2 separate regions of the Homo sapiens genome follow, and region 2 is linked to region 1. The links come from fine-mapping of genetic effects on gene expression. A gene starts in region 1. The other region holds a variant in brackets. All regions are shown on one strand. Distances are from middle to middle. Region 1 holds the start of GALNS (galactosamine (N-acetyl)-6-sulfatase). Region 2 overlaps GALNS (galactosamine (N-acetyl)-6-sulfatase).

Region 1 (9,165 bases):
CTATAATTTCTAAAATTAACACTGTGCTTGCTAGATGGGATGAAAAGGCAAATATGTATCAAGAAAGTTCCCCTCCCTAGGTCCTGCCCTAGGCTGACCCCCCCTTACAGCCTTTCCTGCTGCAAGGGCTTCTGGGGTCCTCAAGGTCCTTGAGAAACTCTCCAGTCCTGGACCAGTGCTGGAACCAACTCCGGGGGGGTCCCCTCAGCGGGCTGAGCCTTGACCGCTGGACCCCAAGGACGCCGGCGGCACTGACGCCACTATGGGCTCGGCCGCTGCCCTGGGTGGTAGTCAGCCACGTCATCAAGTGACACAGCACCCAACCCCCTCAGCACCAACAGGCAGGAGGGGGTGCCTCAAGTCTGCGCTCCAAGGTTTAGGACCAGGGCTGCAGCTGAGCCAACGCCGCGGGGCCACGAGGCTTCCCAGGTTTCACAAGGGCTCCTTTTAAGGCCGGGCGGAATCCAGACATTGAGCCAGATGCAAAGAATGGAGGCCAAGTCCAGAAAGAGGAGGGCCCTCCCCTGTGGGAAGCCACGCCGGCTCCCCTTGTGCCCCTAGATCCTAGGCTGGTTCTGGGCTCAGGAGGCCACCCCCTCCAGACCAGCCCACCTGTTCAGCCAGTGGGTGACCCACATGGTCACAGGTCCTGCAGGCTCAGGAACTCTTGGCTCCAGGCACCCCTGCCTCTGCCCCTTTGGGACAACTGAGGACAGGCTACCTGCGCCATCTGATCCCAAACCTCTGCCCACACCCCAGAAAAGTCCTTAGTTGAATTCTTCTTAATTAAATCCTTGGCTGACACGGAAGGAAAAAGCCAAATCTCCTCTCACAAGACCTTTAGTTGAGAGAACATGCACAGCTGCCTGCCCTGAAAGCCCCAGGCGTCCCATTCAGGAAGAGGCAACCAGAACAGACCGACGGCCCCACCACAGTCGTGCGCGGGCTCCTCTGCGATGGCTGGCAGCACAGCTCACTCAGCACACCTGTATCATCATCGACGTCACCATGTTATCAAAGGCCCTGCTAAGAGAAACAGACCCACTCAGAGGAGAGCCAGGCCCTCCACCCCTCTGCTCAGAGACGGGCCGGGCAGCATGGCTCCATCCACAGGATGCTCGGGACCTTCTCCAGGGTCCAGAAATGTGAACTCCGCTGAGAGGCCAGGACAGGAGTCCCACCCCACCGGGCACTGAGAACCCATCTGCTGCCTCCAAGTTCCCTGTGCAGCCTCCCAAGGCCCCAGGAAGGGGTGGAGGAGGGAGCAGCATGGGCAGGCAGAGCGGTGGTGTGGCAAGGATGGCCCTGTGCAGCCCAGGAGGCAAGACTGTGGACATTCGCCTGCCTGCTCCCATCTGGGACCAGGATGGCCCCAAGACAGTGTCCTGGTGGAGGGAGGGGCCTGCCTTGGATCACTGCAGCGTCCTCTTCCCTGCCAACCACAGGGAATTATGTCTTGGAACTGGGGACTCACTGAAAGCAAGTCTGGAATGTGGGCATGGACCCCACATTTCCCTCATGATGTTCAAAAGTTAAATCTGTTTACTTTGTGGACTATTCGGAAGACACCTGCAAACCAGGTTCCTGACTGTTCCAAATTCAACATAAAAGATCAGGTAGCTACAAAAGGACGTGTGATCCCTGAAAGCCACTGCCCATGTGCTTGGCCCTGAGTCCTGCAGGTGCCCCAGGTACCCACTGGGCACACCTGGGAAGCCAAATGGGCAAGCTCTACTCCCCACACCACACACACTCTATCCACTTTATGCGCTGGAGATCTGTGTAAGAGTTGGTGTGGAGAAACGGGGCTTTGTGGCTTTAAAACCTCTGCCCTAGGGGGATGGTGCTCATAGCTTAAAAAGATCTTTCCTCCCTTATTTTCCAAATGGTTGCATTTTGGCAACCAAAATGGCAAGGCATGTCCTACAGAAAGAAGGTGGCAAGACACAGAAAGTAGGGCCCACCTGGACTGGATGCGGTCCCCCGGGTTGTAGAAGGGGTTGCACATCACGTCTGTGTAGGAGTTGTGTAGCTTCCGGAACATCTGAAAAAGACCCAGCAAACCATGACCTTGCCACATACACACAGCCACTGCCAGATTTTTAGTTTCTCAGCATTTCAAAACAAAGTCAAAAAGGAAAAACAAAACACCCACTCGGGCGTGGCCCTCTAACTCCCTGACTTACGCTGCGAATTTCGTTGTCTCGAAGGGCTGTGTTGGAGGAATCTACCACCATGACAAACTTCACCTTGGAGTTGGTGACGTAGCCGTATCTGCACAGCTGGTTAGGGAAGGCACTCGTAACACAGGGACTGCCGGTGGAGGGCCCTCTGTGGGCCCTCACTTTGGAGAAATGTGGCAACCTTGAATCACAGGAAATGCCCATGCTGGGCTGGTCCTGCAGTGGCCGTGCTGGGTACAAGCCTAAATACTTTGCTAGGGCGACGTCTGGTGTTTGCAGGAGAAGCGAAGAGCAGGCAGCCAAGCCTTACCCAGTTCACACTCCAGGAGCCGAACCACCTAGACTCCGAGTCTGTCTGTCTGGAACACCTCACCCTCTTCATGAATCAATGCCTGGCCCGGAAAGTTAACTGCAAAACCAGAGGCTTCGTGAACAAGGCGGATCCCCTCTCTAGAGGCCACATTATTTTGTAAAATAGTGGCTACTAGCAAATGTCACCATGGACAGGCTACATGATGACTTTTGGGAAGGTCTTTGAATTCCATGGCCTCAAGTGATTTGTCCCAAGGGACTAGACGAGTGTCTAGTGACATAAGAGGCAAGGCCTAATGAAATAAATGAAACTATTATCCCCTGCTCAAAGGTGGTGGCTCCCCCTGAAAAGCACAGAAAGAAATCCTTGCAGGTACAAAGCAGAAGTGTCCCACTTCCTCTGCAAACCAGACAACGGACACGTGCAAACCAAAACATTCTACGGGGAATTCTAGCCTTGCTTTTCCCAAATGGCTCTTCCAATGAAAGAGAAGAGTTACAGGCCTTCATTCACCTCAAGCTACCCTAATTCCCTGGCTGGCTAAAAACTCTCACCTCTTTTTCTTCTAAAAGGTTTCAAGTTATCTGATCCTAAAGTACATCTTGCAACTGTAGGTCCTCCCTGACACACACCCTGCCCTGAAAGATACACCTTGTAGTCCTCCGTGGGGTAGAGCAGGCCCAGGTACAGCTCCCTCTGGTCGACCAGGGCCTTCCCCATTGCGGAGATCTTCTCATCCACCACGTCCAGAGATGTGTGCACCATGTAGTGGAACTTCAGCTCGTTCTCCGTAGGGGTGCTGCGAATGTAGAGGGGGTAATTCTGCAAGAAAGGATGACGGCGACTGAAAGGACAAGACTCCACCCAGCGCACACCAGCTCTGAACTATGCTGCAGAGCCGTGACCTGCAGCCACCCGGGGAACGCATTCCCATGCTCTAAGGCCCACCGCTTCATTCTCTATGCCGCAGTGGGCACTGCCTTCAGGGGATCCCAGCTAACCTAAGGAGATTTATGTGTTGTTTGCAAAGCAGCAGCAGTAGGGTGGGCGGAAAAGAAAAAATGAATCAGAAAAATGGGCCTGAGCACAGCCTGCCGATCAAGCCTGGCACCTGGGCACGCCTCTCACCTTCTCCTGGAGGCCACTCTGCCTCAGCCCACCTCTAACTCTGCATGGCTCACCCAAATACAGCACCCTCAATACTGGCTTTTCTTCACCTTGACAGTGACCCTTTTACTAAACCCTTCAAGACTCAGCTCAAATTCCCTTCATCTCTGCATTTCTGACCATTGGAAGCCCAGAATTAACAGCTTCTTTCTCGGTCTTTCACACACCACCATTTACCCTGTGTGTGTTCAGCACTGGGTCCTGCACAAATACAGTGAACAAGAGTCCTCGCTACCCTCGTGGGGAGTGATACCTAGTCAATAAACCCACAAACAAGCAAATGATCATCTTGGCCAAGAGGGAAGCCCATGAGCAGCTTAGCAGCAGCCACCGCCCAGCAGGGAGCGGTCTCGAGTCTGGTCTCGGGAGACCCTGGCTAGGAAATGAAGGCTCCGTGCAGCAGGAGCGTGTGGGCAGCCACCCAGCTCAGTCTTAGCCTTCAGAAAATGCTTTCCAGTTGAAATGTATGTGGGCCAGTAAAGAGGATGGGAGCTGGGGAGAGGTGTTCCGCGTGCAAAGGCCCACAGGTGAGAGGGCAGAGCATGTCCAGGGAGCTGCAGAATTGTTTGGTTGGAGCGGAGAGTGCCAAGGGTTATGGGGGGAAAGGATCCCAGAGCAGGTTATTCAGACAGCATCCTAAGGCAACGAGAAGCCACTGCAGAGGTCTCAGGCAGAGGCGTGACAGGATCCGATTTGTTTTTAACTCGGCTCCGGGGAGACTGGCAGGAGGGCCGGGGCCGCCGTCCGCGGGGAACCAGCGCTGGACGGGAGAACGGGCAGAACCTGCTGAGGACGGAGGACGGAGGTAGTGCCCGGGACCACCTAGGTTTCTGGTGGGTCCTGGCGGGGAGGAGACCTGCTGCGCCGAGGGGTGCGTTCAGCAGCGGGACGGGCGAGCGCGGAACTGGGGTCTCAGTCAGGGTCTGCCTGGCGGCTCGTCCACCGCGAAGCCCCTGACCGCTGGAGCTCGGCGAAGGCCTCCTCCAGGTCCCATTTCCTAAGGTGCCTTCTAAGCCCAGGGAAGAAGTAGAAAGAAAGCGGAGAGCCGAGGATGGTGCGAGCCCGGACGCCCCACGCCGCGCGTACGCACCTCCTTGGCAATCACCGCGATGCACACCGCCATCTTGGGAGGCTCGGCGCCAGGCACCGCGTCACGTGACCCGCCGCTGGTCACGCGGCCTCCAAAGCCCCGCCCCATCCGCACACAGCTGGCTCAGGCCCCGCCCCACTGGTCACGAGGCAGTCCAGGCCCCGCCTCCCGTCCCTCCGCGGACTCTGGCCCCGCCCCGCGAGTCACGTGGCCGTCCAGGCCCCGCCCCGCAGCCCAGCCGGAAGGGCCGGCGGACGCTCGCTAGGTCGGCTCGCTGGCCGGGGCTCCGCGGCTCCCGTGGTTGCCATGGCGGCGGTTGTCGCGGCGACGAGGTGGTGGCAGCTGTTGCTGGTGCTCAGCGCCGCGGGGATGGGGGCCTCGGGCGCCCCGCAGCCCCCCAACATCCTGCTCCTGCTCATGGACGACGTGAGTGCGGGCGGTGGGACGGGGCAGGGCCGGGGTGGGGCGGGGAGGGGAGGGGCGGATGGAGGGAGGAGCGAGGTGGGGGAAGGGCGGGCGGGGTGGGGGGAGAGGTGAGGGGAGGCCCCTTGGGGAAGGGGGGAGGCCCCGCGCGGGGAGGAGGAGGGGGAGGGGACGGGGGGTATCCCCGTGCGGGGAGGGGGAGGCCCCTCGGGGAGTGGCCGCGGGGTCCAGGCGTGGGGTCTCGGCGGTCACCGATCACCACACGCGCTGCCACTGTGCTGCATGACCGGGACAGCGTCCTCCCTGGCAGGTGGGTGGCCGGCGTGCTACCGGGCCCTGCCTCCCCCGTCTGACCTTTCCCGCCCTCTACTCTTGGGAAAGGTGGGCGCGCAGCGTGGCCTCCCCAAAGGGAGGAAGAGGCTGCTCCTGCCGCCCTGCCTGAGAGCTGCGTCGCCCTAGGAATCACTCCCGCCACCTCGGGCCGCCGGGTCCCCCCGCTGGGCTCCAGTCTTACCTGACGGCTGTCTCTGTCCTCTGGAGAATGCTGAGCGAAGGTCAGGTGTCCCTAAGGTCTGAAGAACTGAAAGGCTGGAATGTCTCCTGGTGGGCAAGTGCGGGGTCAGGGGTCACAGCCAGCCTGGAGGCCTCCTTCCCTAACTCCTTGTGGGAGCCACCTGGAGACTCAGGAATGAGCCTGCCTGGGGCATGGGTCACCGTGCAGGACCCCAGACACACCTGGGTTGAAACCCTACTGTCTCCAAGCTTGGGGGTCACTTCCATTCTTGAACCTCAGCTGCCACACCTGGGGGGTTACACCTGTCCCGCCGTGCTCACGTTGTGTGTGAGGACTGGGACGACACCGAGTACCAGACAGTTTTGGGCCGTCGGTGTCGCTCAGCCCCTGTGTGCTGGCTCCGACCAGCAGAGACCCTGACAGGTGCCTTCAGACCCACCTGTGCTGACCAGTGGGGGCCACGGGCCACACCCAAGGGCTGGGCAGTCGTGGCTGTCGGAATTGGAAGGTGCTGGTAGTGTAAAATACACAGATTTAGAAGACTTGGTGAAAGAAAAATAATGTAAAATATCTCACTTAACAATTTTATTAAATTAATGGTTTTTTAACATAAAGATATACTTGAAAAGATAACAGACACCACCCATAATTTCCCCACCCAGGGGTGACAGCCGACAGTCCTGGGCAGCTGCTTTTCCATCTCATATGTCTTATTTGTGTGCAGTGACTGCTTTCCAGAGCACGCTCTCCAGCGCCCAGGGGTCCGTGTCCTGACAGCAGTAGCCGGGCCTTTCTCTGCACTGAGTGGCATCTCCCTCCTAAAGATACTTTGCTTCAGAATTTCATCCTTTCACTTTTGAAGTTCCTCTGGGCCAGTGTAGATACTTTGTTTCAGAATTTCTTCTTTTCATTGTGTAACTCCTTCTGGGCCAGCATAGCTTCGCTGGATGAGCTGGGCTCTGCAGGTGAAGCCTCCCTGTTAAGTTTCTGCTTTTCCTGACTTTCTCAGAGGACAGAGGGGTGAGGCGGGGCAGCTCATGAATAATTTTTTATGTTGAAGACTTGTCGAAATAATATTTTGGTTATGTTGGGTTAAATAAAATATAAAGTTAGTCTGTATTTCACCTACTTCTGCTTTTCTAATGTGGCTCCCGGTAAATAGGGAATTGCATGTGGACTCACCCTACGTTTCCATAGGACAGCAAGGGTTCAGGCCGTGCAGGGTGGAGGGGTGGGGTGTGGCCACCGGGGCACATGTGGGGGAGGGTGACAGGAAGCCCCGCCCACCTGGGCACCTGTTCTGTGGCCTCCACTGTGTGGCTTGTGGGGTCGTTTGGCAGCTGACGCCTAAAGAACCCCAGAGGAGCTGTGTCCTGGCCGGTAGGTGTACTTGTAAGGACTTTCTGATGCAGACAGCAGAAGATGAAGTCAAAGTGACAAGCAACAGTGGGGATTCCCTGGCCCTCCTGAGTCGACAGACCAGGGCCGCCTGGCGAGTTTCCCCTTTCGTGGCTCTGCTGCCTCTGAACTGGCCACATCCTCACTCAGCCTGTGATGGTCCTAGGTGACTCCAAGTCACCCCTGCAGTCAGCAGACCCAGTGGGAGGTTGGCTCTGCCCGTGTCATGTTAGCGTGATGTGGGTCTCAGCCCTGCGCCAAGCACACTGGGGGAGGGGCACATGCTGACCTGTCCAGCCCAGGCCTCGGAGCCTCGGGCCTACCCCAGAAGGGAGACTGCCCCTGATCATCTCATCTGCCTGGACCCAGCAGAGAGGGGGTTCCCTGAAGGGCCCATGGTGCAGCTGCCAGGACAGGGCAGGGATGCTGGCAGGTGAGAGCCACAGAAGCTCACAGTGGAGCCCCGAGGTGCCCTGACGTGGCCCAGGGTGCAAGGGGGTCCTCACAGGCTGTCTTCTCTCCTTGGAGTCCGGGGCTTCCTCCGCAGCCCTGTCCACACCTCTTCCTGCACTGCAGACCGGTTGTTTCTGCCAGGGCGCTGGCGTCTGAACCTGCAACAGGTCATTCGGCCTCTGGCATGACATGGGATGGCTTGATGACCCACAGCTCTGGGCCCAGCACCACTTGAGGACGAGTGTGCATGTCTCAAGTTCAGATTTTGGAGCATGGCCCTCCAGGGACCGGCTGCCTCCAGCCCAGTCTCCCCCTATCCAGTCCTCTGTGGCTGGGCAGTGGGGGGCCTGGGCCCCCCTTTCGTCTAAGCAAGTGCAGTTTCAGAAAAGGGTTGTCCCCAAAACTAGCTTATTGCACCCCTCATGGCCAGAAGCCACTCTCCAACTGGTCACACTGACCCGGGAGAGAACCATTGCCCCCAGAGTCGGGACCAGAAGGGGAAGCTGGGACTCAGGGGTGAGAGCAGCTGGCAAGAGCCCCCACCTGTCCAGGGGGAGCTGAGCCGGGCAAGGACGGGTCTACCTGCACTCCCCAGGGCTGCCCTGCCCTGGCCTTTCACTGACCCACGGTCCAGCGCGGCCTGGCTTCGTAGTACCCTGGGCACCTGCTGCGTGAGTGAGGAAACCTGCGTGGCCCACTCTGCTCTCCAGGGCTTCTGGGGCCTTGGAGACAGGTGAGACCCAGTGACAAGTTCCACTCTGGCCCACACACAGCTCCTGCCTCCCAGGGCGAGCAGCACTCTGTGTCTCCACTCCTTATTTGGAAAATAGGGTTAAGGAGGGTCAGCCCTGACCACAGAGGAAGTGGAGAGTCAGGGCCACCCAGGCCAGCTCCTGTTGCCACAGCAGCCTCGTCGAGCCACCAGAGTCCGGGGAGGGTTGCTCAGTGCCCCTCGTTTGAAACAGACAAGCACTGGCCTGCTCGTCTTCATAATAATCCCATAGCAACCAGTAGGAATGGAAACTGCGTTTCTTAAAACTCTGAAATTCTGAAGGATACTGATCCATGGCTCACAGCTGTGCTCGCTGAACGTGGACAATCATTTGGGGGCTTTTAGGCCTTTTTTTTTTTTTTTTTTTTTTTTGAGATGGAGTCTCACTCTGGTCACCCAGGCTGGATTGCAGTGGTGTGATCTCAGCTCACTGCAACCTCCGTCTCCCAGGTTCAAGCAATTCTCCTGCCTCAGCCTCCCGAGTAGCTGGGACTACAGGCTCCCACCACCGTGCCCAGCTAATTTTTGTATTTCTAGTGGAGACGGGGTTTCACCATATTGGCCAGTCTGGCCTGAAACTCCTGACCTCAGGTGATCTGCCTGCCTCAGCCTCCCAAAGTGCTGGGATTACAGGCATGAGCCACCACACCCAGCCAGGACTTTTTTTTTGAGACAAGGTCTGGCTCTGTCACCCAGGCTGGAGTGCAGTAGCTCGATCACAGCTCACTGCAGCCTCAAACTACTGGGCTCAAGCAATTTTCCTGCCTCAGCCTCCTGAGTAGCTGGGATTATAGCCGCCCATCACCACACTCGGCTAATTAATTTGATCTTCAATCACTGATACCCTTTCTT
Region 2 (8,684 bases), 30 kb after region 1:
CCGCTCTCCTCCCCACGCACCCCGTGCTCGGCCTCACCGCTCTCCTCCCCACGCACCCCGTGCTCGGCCTCACCGCTCTCCTCCCCACGCACCCCGTGCTCGGCCTCACCGCTCTCCTCCCCACGCTCCCCGTGCTCGGCCTCACCGCTCTCCTCCCCACGCACCCCGTGCTCGGCCTCACCGCTCTCCTCCCCACGCACCCCGTGCTCGGCCTCACCGCTCTCCTCCCCACGCACCCCGTGCTCGGCCTCACCGCTCTCCTCGGAACCAGGTCCCTCTCGGTGGCTCTCGGTGTGTAGGGCTTGCTGTGCTTGGTCAGACAGGCAGGAAGGCTCTCGGTGGGGACTGGAGCCACGTATACTGCCGTGTGTCACGTGGGTGCTGGTAATGACTGTGTGGTGAGGAGACATCCGTGGTCCAGTCACCGCAGCAGTCCTGAGTTAAATGGAGCTAAACAGGTTTCTTCCCTGCAGGACTTATCAGTGCCTTTAGCATGCTGGTGGGCACCATGAGCTTCTAGAAGGGGCTTAGAGCAGGCTGAGTGTTTAAAAACCTGTCTGTCTACTACAGAATCGGTCGTTTTTTCCCCCAAAGCACATCTTCTCAGGCCAGTGTCCTAAGGACACTCAGAGAACAGCAGCAGCCCGACACGAGACCGTTGGTGTCTGTCTGCCGCATGGGGTGCGGACCTCGGTGGTGGCCTGGGTCCTGGCTGGGCGAGGGTGCGCCCTGCCATCTCAGTGTGACCACCTTCATGCTGTCACTGCATCTCCTCTGGCCCAGGAAGCTGCCCCTCGGTTGAGAATCACACCGTGTGGTCTTCTGTAACAGGCACTTGAGCCAGACATACCCATCAACACGCGGGGCTGAGTCTGGTGTTTGTAAACGACCGCTGTTTCTTCACTGTTTCTTAGTCTTTTGCCCTCCCAATGGCCTCCAGAGGCAGCCATCCCCTTCAAGTGGCCCCACGAGGATGGGGGGGGCTCCCAGTGGCAGCTGGAACATCACACATGACGACAGCCAGAGTCAACATGGGGCTCATGGGGCTGAGTGAAGACGTGCGTGGGGCCAGCTCCTTCTGGAGGCTCCAGGAGATGTTCTGTTCCCTGCCTTTTCCCAATCCTAGTAGCTGCCCCATTCCTGAGCTCCTGGCCCCTCCACCGTCAAAGCCAGCAGCACGCAGGCATCTGTCCCTGGCCTTCCTGTTCCACGTTTTTTTTTTTTTTTTTTTTTTTTTTGAGATGAAGTCTCACTCTGTTGCCCAGGCTGGAGTGCAGTAGTGCAATCTCGGCTCACTGCAACTTCTACCTCCCAGATTCAAGCGATTCTCCTGCCTCAGCCTCCCGAGTAGCTGGGACTACAGGCATGCTCTACCATGCCCGGCTAATTTTTGTATTTTTAGTAGAGACGGAGTTTCACTATGTTGGCCAGTATGGTCTCAATCTCCTGACCTCGTGATCTGCCCGCCTCGGCCTCCGAAAGTGTTGGGATTACAGGCGTGAGCCACCGCGCCCGGCGCCTGTTCCACTTTTGAGGACCCTGTGGCTGTGTCCCACCCCACCCCCTGCTCACCCAGGCTGGCCTCCCTGTTTCGAGCCTCGCTGATGAGCGGCCTGCGTTGTGTCTGCCGCCTCAATTGCCTGGCCTGGTCGCGCGCCTGAAGGCCCAGGGATTGGCTGCTGTTCTGCCAGATCCTCCTCTTCCCCACTCATTCTACACATCAGGAAACTGAGGCCAGAGAGGAAGTCGTCTGTCAGGGTCCCCCAATTACTAGGGAGCAGAGGTGGGAGCAGGCGCCTGGCTGTGGATCCTGCACTCCTGCCCACCATGCCTGGGCAGTCCCCTGTGTCCCCAGCAGCCAGTGGGACTGGGGGCGGCAACTGCCAAGGGCGCCTGTTCTCTACAGCTGTCTGGGCCTCCCTCAGACCCTGCCCAGGGCAGCCTTTGTCTGACATGGGACTCCTGGGCCACCCCAAGTTCCCAGGACCCTGAAGGTGGAAGAGACCCCACGGTTCACTGAAAAGGCAGCTGCGGCTCCGTGTGAAGGGCAGAGTGGCTGTGAGAGTGACCGCCTTGTTGTGCAGGAGAAGCATGGGTGGTGGGCACGGCCTCCTTTGTGGTGTGGGGTGCCCCTAGGACAGAATGCAGCTGTGCCGCCCCCTCCACTCCCCTGAGCGCCATCCCCCTGAGGGTAGGGATGGGCCATTTGGTTTCTTGTGTGGGGGCACCTGCAGGGAGTGGCCGGTGGTCACTCAGTGAACACTGTGACGTTGGCATGAGACTCAGGAACTGTGTAGCTCTGGGAGACGTTGGCATGAGACTCGGGACCCGCGTAGCTCTGGGAGACGTTGGCATGAGACTCAGGAACTGTGTAGCTCTGGGAGACGTTGGCATGAGACTCGGGACCCGTGTAGCTCTGGGAGACGTTGGCGTGAGACTCGGGACCCGCGTAGGTCTGGGAGACGATGGCGTGAGACCCGGGACCCGCGTAGGTCTGGGAGACGATGGCATGAGACTCGGGACCTGCGTAGGTCTGGGAGATGTGAGGTTCCCCACTGCAGTGGGTGCCCACCAGGCCGGGACAGGGCTGGGGCTCTGCTCCCCAGGCTGGGAGCCACCCGTGGCTGTGCTCAGCAGCAGCCTGGAAAAGGTGAGGGGAGCCACCCCAGCGCCGCCCGGCTCCATGCGTAGTGGGTTCAGGGACGTCTGTACCCCACAGACCTCCCCACCCACCTGCCCACGGAAAGGCTCCAGCTGAGAAAAATGCCAATTTCAGCGTTTTGGAACCTTGCCATCTGCCTCGCTCCCTGAAGAAGGGAAACCCTCTCCCCACCTGAGGAAGGGAAACCCTCTTCCCAGAGCCACCAAGTTGCCTTTTCCCGTGGGCCACAAAGTGAAATTGAATTCGATGGCATCAGGCCTGTGCACCAGGACACCACGACGGGGTTTCAGTGAAAGCGCCTGACGTCTGTCCCGACAGTTCCCTCTGGGCAGGGGAGGCTTTAGTCCCTGCAGCCCTGGATTCTGAGTGAAGTCTCGAAAGCGCTGATAACGGTTTCAGTGACTTCTCCCACAGCCGCAGCTGCCCACTGCATTTCTGGATGTTTCTGGAAGGCATCGCTGCCTGGAGAGTTCTTCGAAAACGCTCCACGAGGACCCTGCCTGTGCTGACACCACTCCCGCCCGCCCGCCCTGCCGGCACCACAAGCACTGCTCCGCAGTTATTTTTTCAGATGACAAAAGCATCTGGATTTCTTTCCTTTATTATTCTGTCCTTTAAAGGACACGGGAAGGACGGGAAGCAGTCGCACAGACACTGCTGACCAGACCTGGGGAAGCTTCTCACCTTCTGCAAAGCTTCCTGAACTTTCCTGGCAAACGCTGAGCTTTGCATTCCCTGCCCCACACTGGGCGCTGCAGACCCCACATCCCGTGAGCGGCTGCAGCGCGGAGTGAGTGTCCCTGTGAGGCCAGGGCTCCTCTGTTGGAGAAGCTGGCGATCGCCGTCTGCCCTAGCGAGGAGCTGGCTGCAGGCGGCGAGGGTGCCCCTGGACCGTGGGGAGGGCTGTCGACACTGGGTGGGAGCTCCAGGGCCTGGCAGCGGATGGCGGTCCCTGCCCAGCTGCCCCAGGGGCTGAGCTTGCCAGGCAGGGGTGTCTCTCCAGCCCCACCCCAGTCTCCCCGTCGAGTGACCCAAGCCTGGAGCCCCCGAGTTAAGAAAGAGACAGGGCCGCCGGGCTCATGCCTGTAATCCCAGCACTTTGGGAGGCTGAGGCGGGCAGATCACCTGAGGTTGGGAGTTCGAGACCAGCCTGACCAACATGGAGAAACCCCGTCTCTACTAAAAGTACAAAATTAGCCGGGCGTAGTGACACATACCTGTAATCCCAGCTTCTCGGGAGACTGAGTCAGGAGAATCACTTGAACCTGGAAGGCAGAGGTTGTGGTGAGCTGAGATCGCACCACTGCACTCCAGCCTGGGTGACAAGAACAAAACTCCATCTCAAAAAACAAAAACAAAAAACAAGAAGCAGACAGGGCCACTGAGGGAAGCCAGATGGCACGCTCTGCTCATGGCTGGTCAGCAGTGCCCACGCCCTCCGGAGGTCAAGGCACGGCGGGAAAGACAGCCTCCTGCCTGTCCTGGAGCTCTCTGGGTGTGTCAGGAGCCGTCCCCACCCCAGCCACTCGGAGCTGCTCCTGTCCAGCCTCAGCTGCCCCTCCACATCTGGTTTTTCTCCACCTGCTCCTCTGACTTAAGGGGCAGGGCTCACAGTGGCCTTAGGGCATTCAGTGTTAGAGCGAGGCTGATCCTCTCCGGACAGGTGGGCCTGGAGGGGCATCTCCCTGGGAGGGCTGTGATTCTCCTTTCATCTGATCCACAGAGGCAGAGAAGGGTGCCAGGGAGTGAGGGCGTGGCCTGGCTCTGGGGTCTTTGGGCCTGGTTTGAGGCTCCTCTGTCTCTCACAGGCCTTGTGACCCCGCTCAGTCCCTGCTGTGGGCGTGTGAGCATGTATGCATATCTGTAGACCCAGCTGGGCAGCGGGGCTCACGCCCCCCCAGGGATTGGCCCCCAGCCCCATCGGGTCGGTGCAGAGTGCCCTGACCGTGTTGCTGCCATGTGTTTCAGGTGAGCCACCAGCTGGGCAGCATCATGGACCTCTTCACCACCAGCCTGGCCCTTGCGGGCCTGACGCCGCCCAGCGACAGGGCCATTGATGGCCTCAACCTCCTCCCCACCCTCCTGCAGGGCCGGCTGATGGACAGGTTGGTGCTAGACCTGCCCCGGCCCCTTCCCCCGATCCAAGTAGTGAAGCCCAGAGCTGCTAATCAGGTGCAACCCCCAGGCCCAGCAGCCCTCCT[G/C]GTTCTGGACACAGGCGTGCTCGTGCCCAGGGCAGGAGGAGGCAGGGGTGCCTGAGACGAGAGGACCTGGGGACCTGCCTGTGGGGCAGGGGCCATCCTGGGAGGGTCCAAGCACAGCGAGGCCCTGGCTTTCAAGAAAGCCTTAGGAGGGAGGGCAAGGCCAGGAGAGGGGCCTCATCCCTGCCTGTACCCGGGCACATGCCGCCCCTGCCCGCCCCACCCCTGTTCCCTGCCTGTACCCAGACACACGCCACCCCTGTCCGCCGCACCCCTGTTCCCTGCCTGTACCCAGACACACGCCGCCCCTGTCCGCCCCACCCCTGTTCCCTGCCTGCAGCCCGGGCACATGCCACCCCTGCCTGCCCCACCCCTGTTGCCTGCCTGTACCTGGGCACACGCCGCCCCTGCCCGCCCCACCCCTGTTCCCTGTCTGTAGCCCGGGCACACGCTGCCCCTGTCTGCCCCACCCCTGTTCCCTGCCCAGCCTGGTTTTTGGTGCCTCATGGCTTCCTGTAGCTTCCTTCTTCCTTCCATCCAAGTCGCTGCTCTGCCAAGTCCATGGCCCAGCTCTTACCTTCTGTCCAAATCCTTAGTGTCCAAAGTCCATTTCCTACCCCCTGAGAGCAGCCACCATTCCACTCAAACCACGTTTCCTGGGTGGTCCTGAAGGGATGAGGATTCCAAAGGCTCAACGGGAAGCAAGGTGGGGACGGCCCAAGGCAGCTGCCGCCTCCGGCTATCTGGGGCCGGGTAGAGGGAGTTTTGCTCACTTGTCCCCTCTCGAGACCTGGCACAAGTGGTTGGTCACTGTGGGGAGAGACGGTGCCCAGCTGCGTCCCCCACTCCCCGTTCCTGACTCGCAGGCCCAACATGGTCAGGAGACCCCGTGCCGCCTGCTTATCCTCTTGTCTGCCCACCCTCCCCAGGGTCTGGCCCAGCCTTGCCAAGGACCAGCAATGAGGGGACGCCCAGGCACCCTAGCCCCGGCCGCCCAGGCACCCCAGACACCCAGGCACCCCAGCCCCAGCTGCCCAGGAATCCCAGTCCCGGACACCCAGGCACCCCAGCCCCGGCTGCCCAGAAACCCCAGCCCCAGACATCCAGGCACCCCAGCCCCGGCCGCCCAGACACCCAGGTACCCCAGCCCTGGCCGCCCAGGCACTCCAGCCCTAGACACCCAGGCACCCCAGACACCCAGTCACCCCAGCCCCGGCCACCCAGACACCCAGCCACCCCAGCCCCGGTTGCCCAGACACCCCAGCCCCAGACACCCAGGCACCCCAGATACCCAGTCGCCCCGGCCACCCAGGCACCCCAGCCCCGGCTGCCCAAACACCCAGGCACCCCAGCCCTGGCCACCCAGACACCCCAGCCCCAGACACCCAGGCGCCCCAGACACCCAGGCACCCTAGACACCCAGTCACCCCAGCCCCGGCCGCCCAAACACCCAGTCACCCCAGCCCCGGCCGCCCAGACACCCCAGCCCCAGACACCCAGGCGCCCCAGATACCCAGTCACCCCAGCCCTGGCCACCCAGGAGCTCCAGCCCCGGCCGCCCAGGCACCCCAGCCCCAGCCACCTTGCGGGCCTTTTTACTTTTCAATCATCTTTGTAAAGTATCAACCAAGACCTCACGTGGAGGCATGAGCCACTGATGACAGACGCAGCCCAGAGCCTCCAGGTGGCCCCAGCGTGTCCTTCCTGTCATTACATGGTCCTCCCCTCCCATCCCACAGGCCTATCTTCTATTACCGTGGCGACACGCTGATGGCGGCCACCCTCGGGCAGCACAAGGCTCACTTCTGGACCTGGACCAACTCCTGGGAGAACTTCAGACAGGTACAGGGCTCGGGACGTGGGCGCAGGCGGAGCTGCCCCCATCTCTATCCAGACGTGGCCCCTGAGCACCGTCCTGGGGGAGGCACAGGAGGGTGAGACAGGCAGGAACTCCACCCCCTCCACAGCCTTCTCTGTGTGGCCCCCAGTCGTTCAGCGTGGCCTAGGGCATGGCAGCTGACAGGCTGGAGAGGAGGGAGGGACCTCTTCCTGCCCCGCGTGATGACAGTAGCCCCGCGGCATAGCTACAGGCGTGGCCTAGACCCTGGTCAGGTGGCCCCCATGGGCCTCTCCATCCTGCCAGGGCATCTGAGCCTCCCCCACACCCCAGGCTGGAGGCGACAGAGACGTGGCCTGCTTGGCCCAGGTGCTACATGGGGGCCGCAGCATTGGCATCACCACAGCAACCCCCAGTGTGGGAGGGTGAAACGCCACACGCACAGGGCCTGGGGCTCCTGCCGCCCCAGGCTACCCCAGCATTGTCAGCGCCAGGCTTTCTCCCACGAGCCCTCGCCTCAAGCCTCCTGCTCCCTCCCCACGGTCTTTTCTGGCCCCTGCTGACCCCTACGCTCCAGCATCCCCCAGCCCCTCCTGAGAGGTCTCTCTCAGCCCCACCCACTCCCAGCATCAAAGTCTTGAGATATGAACCCCCTGCTAATCTGCCTTAATTGGGAAGAAAATCATTTAGTGTAATGGAGAGTCTAAAGACTGGAAGTGAGAACTGGGGCTGAGGGCTGAGCACCCAGGCTGAGGAGGGAAGCTGCTCGTGGGGCAGTGTCTGGAGGGCAATGATGCCCAGGAGTGTTTTGGCTCCTCCCCACCCTGTGCAGGCCCCGCACCCGCTCTTCTTTCGGGTTTTACCCAGCACTGTCACCTGCAAGGGCCATCCTGGGCATCGGTCCCCGGCATTGCCGCCTGTGAGGGCCGTCCTGGGCATCGGTCCCCGGCATTGCCGCCTGCGAGGGCCGTCCTGGGCATCGGTCCCCGGGCATTGCCGCCTGCGAGGGCCGTCCTGGGCATCGTTCCCCGGGCATTGCCGCCTGCGAGGGCCGTCCTGGGCATCGGTCCCCGGCATTGCCGCCTGCGAGGGCCGTCCTGGGCATCGGTCCCCGGCATTGCCGCCTGCGAGGGCCGTCCTGGGCATCGGTCCCCGGCATTGCCGCCTGCGAGGGCCGTCCTGGGCATCGGTCCCCGGCATTGCCGCCTGCGAGGGCCGTCCTGGGCATCGGTCCCCGGCATTGCCGCCTGCGAGGGCCGTCCTGGGCATCGGTCCCCGGCATTGCCGCCTGCGAGGGCCGTCCTGGGCACAGTCCTCGGACGAGCCCCTTGGCCTGCAGCACCCGCTCTGGGAATGTTAGAGGCATACCTCGCCTTTCCCGAATCAGGAGGCCCAGGGGCAGCAGAAAGAGAATTGTGGTTACTGTAAAATCCTTGCCCTTCTTGAGTGTGTGAATCTGTGTCAGCTCCCTGGGTCTGTTTTTGTTTTCTGTGTTTTCTCTTGCCTTTCACATGTTGGTCCTGCTCCTCCCTGTCTTAGGGTTTCTGTAGGGATTCTGAGCGTTGTGGCTCTCCCTTCTCCCAGGGCAGGGCCTCCCTTCCCGTCCCTTTCCCTCCCCTCCCTTCCCCAGCAGAGAGTAGGCTGTTAAAAGGGGCTTTCCTCCATGAAATTAGTGGCAGTCCAGATCTGAGGCTGGCTAAGGTGTTTTAAATACACTCACCTGCCTCGCAAAGAAGAGGGGTACATGAAAACAGGGTACGTGAGGCATGCCAGCTACGCATCTCGGGCCCAGAGCGGGTGGCTTCACCTCCTCCACAGGATGCTTATGGGCCCGCTAGTCCTTCAGCGTTTAGCCAGCGCCCTGCACCATGCTGAGTACCAGGGACGCTGCTAGGCACAGGCAGACGAGACCCCCCCACGGCCCCCAGTTAGGGGCTCCAGGACACAGGCAGACAAGGCCCCTCACGGCCGCAGTCAGGGGCTCCAG

The links.
Region 2: its variant is fine-mapped to the expression of GALNS in tibial artery (GTEx, PIP 0.96).

Annotation. Positions count from the first base shown.
Region 1 is chr16:88,852,772-88,861,936 of GRCh38, reverse strand. It overlaps GALNS (galactosamine (N-acetyl)-6-sulfatase), which reads left to right and starts at 4,990. Exons shown (of 14, transcript NM_000512.5): 1 at 4,990-5,179. The coding sequence starts at 5,060. TRAPPC2L (trafficking protein particle complex subunit 2L) reads right to left here and starts at 4,810. Exons shown (of 5, transcript NM_001318525.2): 1 at 4,754-4,810; 2 at 3,146-3,318; 3 at 2,187-2,274; 4 at 1,965-2,044; 5 at 1-1,023. The coding sequence starts at 4,786. The coding sequence ends at 978. It overlaps LOC107983950 (a long non-coding RNA gene), which reads left to right and starts at 5,357. Exons shown (of 2, transcript XR_933884.3): 1 at 5,357-5,486; 2 at 5,636-6,809. RefSeq lists silencers at 4,858-5,257, 6,927-6,996.
Region 2 is chr16:88,822,785-88,831,468 of GRCh38, reverse strand. It overlaps GALNS (galactosamine (N-acetyl)-6-sulfatase), which reads left to right. Exons shown (of 14, transcript NM_000512.5): 10 at 4,631-4,767; 11 at 6,600-6,702. Among named protein-coding and RNA genes, the nearest start is that of APRT, 15 kb to the right of the region's middle. The variant G/C (reference allele first, on the strand shown) is at 4,864.